Regions from separate parts of the Homo sapiens genome. Here region 2 is linked to region 1. The links come from fine-mapping of genetic effects on gene expression. A gene starts in region 1. The other region holds a variant in brackets. All regions are shown on one strand. Distances are between the middles of the regions.

What was found. PIP is the estimated chance that this variant, and not a neighbour inherited with it, causes the effect. A credible set is the group of variants that fine-mapping cannot tell apart.
Region 2: its variant is the best candidate, but not a certain one, in a credible set for the expression of ATP13A5-AS1 in testis (GTEx, PIP 0.64).

The regions. Positions count from the first base shown.
Region 1 is chr3:193,305,855-193,308,782 of GRCh38, forward strand. It overlaps ATP13A5-AS1 (ATP13A5 antisense RNA 1), which reads left to right and starts at 1,390. Exons shown (of 2, transcript NR_046758.1): 1 at 1,390-1,546. It overlaps ATP13A5 (ATPase 13A5), which reads right to left. Exons shown (of 30, transcript NM_198505.4): 22 at 1,473-1,515.
Region 2 is chr3:192,380,168-192,383,095 of GRCh38, forward strand. All of the region lies in intron 2 of FGF12 (fibroblast growth factor 12), which reads right to left. Among named protein-coding and RNA genes, the nearest start is that of FGF12-AS2, 130 kb to the right of the region's middle. The variant G/A (reference allele first, on the strand shown) is at 1,606.

The DNA of each region.
Region 1 (2,928 bases):
AACAATGACCCAGAGGTAGAAAAGTGGTGTGTGTACATGCATGCGTGTGTGCATGTGGGCATGTGCATACAAGGGCCCTGCCTGTGGGGATTATAGATGTGAAAAGGAGATGGAAGCCCTCATTCAAAAACTCAATTAAAAAGATGACAGAATTTGGATGGACGTTGGTTGGGGACCTTCACCGTTTCAGTTCTTGTACCTGGTGGGAATCTTCATGAACAAAGGTGAAAGAATTCCTAGGCCGATCCTATAAGAATTGTGTGGGCATAAAATGAACTTTTATATATCTGTAGTTCCACAGAACTACAGAGTACCTGGCGCCATGAGTACATACTAGATTCAGGTTTAATAAATAATAGGACATTTTCTTCTTCCTCTTTGATCTCTAGTTCGTATCTCTATTATGTACTTTAGGACCATCTACTTTATGTTAGGGTTAGTTTTATTCATGATTCTTTCTTCATCAGACAATGAACTCTTTAGGAGGCAGAGACTATGTCCCTTTTTGCATTTGATTTTTTTGTTTTATTCTAAACGCCACATAATTAATGTGAGAGGATACGTATTCTAGATTTGAAAGAACAGACTAAAAATTAGCTTTTTCTCATGAAACATAAAGCAAAAAACATCTCTAGCTATAAAAATTTCTAGCTATAAACACAGTTTTCACAGAAATTTGGAAATAATATTTAAGAGAGAAATAAAACAAATACCAAGATCTTAAATCTCTAATAAGCTTTGGAAATACAAAGAAATCTTCCTCACTTCTTGTCCCATAAATCAGCTACTGAAATATTTCCTTAAGTACATAATCTTGAAGGTAGACTATTTGTTTCCTTCATGTCTTTAAAACTCAGAATATAAAACATTCACTGCCCTTCTACTGCATATGAAAAATAATTTGCTGATAATCATTTTATTTAGCTTTTTCTATAGCATAAAATAACTAAATAGTTTGGTCTAGGATTTTACTGAGTGAAAGAGTTCTGGGTGAAGCAAACTTAAAAACTAACCAGAGAATGAAAGTTTGGCAGGAATAAATATAATTTACATATAATTCAAAACTTTAATCATCAGTTTCAAACTTCGTTTCATTGAGTCTTTATCAGTTGTGTGACCTTGGGAGGGGGGAAGAAATCACCTCCTTGAGAAATCATTTCATTACTGATAACAGGAAAGATTTAAAGCAGATAGACTTGTAAAGTTCCATCTTTGGAACCTGAAATATGGGAGTCTAAGTAGCCTTCCTTTGTGTTTATTATTCTAGGAGTTTCCAGAAAGCATCGGAAGTGTCTCATCTCCCTTTACTCCCCTCCGCTTCCAACCCACACTCAGGTAGAGGTGGATATAAACAGCAAAATAATCAAATGGTTGCTGGTGGAAGGATGAAGAGACAAACCCCAGGAGAGCCTGAGGTCCTCCAGAGGGATATTAGTGAGTGGCTTGTCTGAGCAAAAGCCATTTCTACTCACCCCACAGTCGTTAGCTCCATCTCCACACATGCCCACATAATAACTGCGGGAGACAGGAGAAGAAGGATTAATAGGTAAGAAAAATGAACAGCTCACTTGAATATTTTCCATCATAACTAAGTCACATGTGATTTGTGTGTATGTGTGTGTCCCCTGAACACACCTGGAATCAGGCTGAAGAAAAATGGTTTGGAGAGACATATTCCCAGAGGGAAAAGGCAGTTGCGTTATTTAAGTTGTTTCAATCAATCACATTGAAATGGTAGTGATATAACCAAGGACATCGGCAAAACAGTGATTGCACACTTTAAAAGAAGTCCTGCTTGATGATACGCACCAAGGCCAAGCTTAAGAGTATGCAGTCATGAGCAGAGCACTTCCCACACAACCTAATGCAGAGATCATAACCCAATCCAGCTGCATTTTAGTCACTGACTGTTGCTGAGCATTTACAGCTCAAATACCAGGATGAGAAATTTCAAAAACAGTTTAACAGATATAACTAGAGACATATATTCATATTTTTGATGCATGTCAGGGTGAAAATAAGATATGTTTTCCATCTATATCAGTTTGGTGTGCAAGCACAATACAAATAGAAGAGTAAAAATTAATACGGCTGCCAAAGAAAAGGAGTTTCAGATGTAAGACACTGCCTGCCTTCTATTATAAGTTATACATTATAAGTATTGATAAATGACAATATTCTTAAAGACTTAGCTGCATTTTTCTAAAAACAGAGTTATGAAATCAATAAGGAGAAAAAATAAAGTTTTGTTAGCGTTTCGTTATTATTAGTTAATGCATAAGAAACAACCACTTTTATAGGTCAAAAACAGTTAATTAAATGTGGCCAGGCACGGTGGCTCACACCTGTAATCCCAGCATTTTGGGAGGCTGAGGCAGGCGGATCTTGAGGTCAGGAGTTCGAGACCAGCCTAGCCAACACAGTGAAACCCCATCTCTACTAAAGATAGAAAAAATCAGCTGGGCATGGTGGTGTGCTCCTGTAATCTCAGCTACTTGGGAGGCTGAGGCAGGGGGATTGCTTGAACCTTGGAAGCGGAGGCTGCGGTGAGCCGATATTGCACCGCTGCACTCCAGCCTGGGCAACAAAGCGAGACTCTGTCTCAAAAACAAAAAAAAGTCAAATGTAGGCACACCCCTATGGTTCAATCCGATACTGGGCTGTGTAGATGAAAATAATCATGCTATATATGTTCATGTCATGACTACCCACAATTGTTGAAAAATGGCTCCTTCTTTCAGGCTTAAAGCACATATTTAGTCTCTATATCACATCAAGAATCTTATCATCTTCTAGTATTCCCTGAATTCAGAAAGAGAATGCAGACAGCCTTATGCACATTGCCAATGACAAAGGCATGAGGAGGAAGATTGGGATGTTGAGAAGACAGCTCATTCTGAGGCAGTGTGTGTCTTCCTGAATTCATTT
Region 2 (2,928 bases), 930 kb before region 1:
ATGTCTAGTTTCAGTTCCAGGTGTCCAAGTTTCCCTTCCTTGTCTCATTAAGAATTACAATTTACTGCACTGCAGATAAACCTTTAGGCAAAGCATATTTCATCTGTTTGCTTAATGGACTGGTGTCTTCTTAAAATTCAGAGTTCTAGACTTAATATTGGTTGTGAGATAATTTATGGTTGATTTCAACATTTTCTATCTCATTGGAAAAATTTCCAGGCTTATTTCAAAGCTTGAAACCTTACCAACTTTCATTTGCCTGAATGAAAACATAACAAACCACATTCTAGAATCTAGCAAAGAAAGTATAGATGGTGGCTAATAGAGTATAAGTTCATGAGAGAGAAAAAATAATCTAACTATAAATAAATGCTCTACACCATAAAACACTATCAAATGGTAACAATTATGTTATTTCAGAAATAGTGTTTATGTACAGAAATTCTAATTTCTGATAGCAAGATAGTAAGGCAAAATCAGAAAAACCTGCCCCTGATTGTCCAATAAAAAGTAGAGTACAACTTGTTAGATTTCATAGCACATTGTTGACAATAGTCACCTCATTTCACCAGAATGGCTTTCTCTCCCTTGGATCTAATAGCAAGGGAAAGAATGCTGAGTTTCATGCCTAGGCCAGTACTATCCAACAGTAATATAATGCAAACCCCACGTAAGTATTTTAAAACATTTCTAGTACTCATTTTTAAACAAGCACAATATACAGGTGAAAGTGTATATTCTATTTATATAGAGTATATATTTATATACAGTATTCTATTTATATATAGTATATATTTAATGACTTGTTCTATTTAACATAATGTATCCCAAATTAGTAGTGAATATAGAAATTATTGCAATATCATACATTCATTTTCTTCATGCTAAGTCTTCAAAACACACTGTGTATTTTGCAATCACAGTATATCTCAGTTCAACTAGCCACTTTCAAGTGCTCAAAAGCCACATGTTGCTAGTGGCTACCATATTATACAGCACAGACCTAGGTGGTTGGACATCTTGACAGACACATTTCTCCAAACAGCACCCGACCATCTATTATACAAAGCAACAATGATCTTGAAGACTTTGTTAATACTGATAACAACAAGGTACAGGTAATCAAAGACCACGTACATTCTGAAAAATACGCACCAAATAAGGTGCAAGCAAAAATTATATCCTAAACCTACTGCCTGCCTGCCTTCATTCCTTCCATCCTAACCTTGATCTTTCCTTCCACCAATACCCTGGTCTTGATACCACGCCAAGGAACACAACTATGAACAAGGCGGTATGGCTAGTGTCCTCGTGAAATTGACCCTCTTGTCAGAAAGAAACTAAATAAATAATGCCACAATCAGTTATTATAATTACAAATATGAGAAGTGTTCTGAAGGAGTCCTGGCTGCTATGGAGGATAAACCTCACCAAACCCTAGGGCGTCAAAAATGGCTCCCTCAGGATAGAACATTGAAGATGAGTGTAAAGAAAAAGAAGGAATTAGCTAGAGGAAGTGAGTACGTGTCAGAAAAAATGAGGAGTAAAAAATAATAACACTCCACACAAGGACAGAAGTAAAAGAAAAGGTTCAAAGTCAGAAAC[G/A]ACTTTTTGGTGAATTTTTTTGGTGAATTTAAACAACTGAAAGTGTGGAGTTCAGAGACCAAGAGTCTGGACAGTGGCCCAAAGAGGAGTTCAGATCATTCAGAATGTTACAGAGCAAGGCGGAAGAAGCAGTGTGAAAGCAAGGGTCATTTGGGAAATTCTGAATGGAAAAAGTCAGACACATAGGACATATAGGGAGTGTTATGTAGACTAGCATAACACTTTTTTTTTTTTTCTTTTTTGAGATGGAGTCTCGCTCTGTCACCCAAGCTGGAGTGCAGTGCTGCGATCTCAGCCCACTGCAACCTCCACCTTCCGGGTTCAAGCCATTCTCCTGCCTCAGCCTCCTGAGTAGCTGGGACTACAGGCATGTGCCAACACGCCCAGCTAATTTTTTGTATTTTTCGTAGAGAAGTGGTTTCCCCGTGTTAGCCAGGATGGTCTCGATCTCGACCACGTGATCCACTCACCTCAGACTCTCAAAGTACTGGGATTACAGGTGTGAGCCACCGCGCCCGGCCTAGCATAACACTTTTTATTGAGCTTGTACATCAATCAAATGCTATGCTATAGTCCATCTACACTCAGGCTGATCACCCTGTACCCATTTTGCCAATGGTGTAGAACTTCAAATATATAGCCATAAAACCTAAACACCATTGCACAAATGTAGCCTTTGATTTTATCTACCTTTGTCCTAGAATAATGGCCTTTCTTCGCTTACCAATTCTTAGTGTGGTCTTCTCTATTACCTATAGCAATAAAAAAAAAATACGTTGGTATAAAAAACAAAGTCAGTCACACAAAACAGCTGGTTTACCCAAGCAATAACATGTTTTTTCCTTCCTTTGCTATAATATAGAGCAAGTAATCAAACAAAAGAGATTGGTTCTAAATAAATTAAAATTGTGTGACAGTCATAATTCATAATTATATAAGGTATATTCATCATTTCCCTTTAATAAGTTGTATTACCCCAAAATATATAATTATTAAATTTGAATGTAAATTACCCTGTAAAATGAATGCCTATATTTAAAACTTTTCACTTTTATGAGGAGTAATGGCAAGTCATTGAAAAGTTTTAAGCATAAGAATGATATCTAATCTGTATTTTAAAAGCTCAGTAGAGACTGATAACGAGAGAACAGATAGGAGGATGAGCAGGGAGACAAGTGAGAAAGTAACAACACGGCCAGTCAAGAGATGCCAGTGACTAGTTTGTGAAGATGTAAAATTGTCTTGACTTAGTTATTAATTGCATGTGGGCAGAAAGGGAAATGTGTGGGAGCACAGTAAAAATAGAAAGTGGAAGTATGTAAT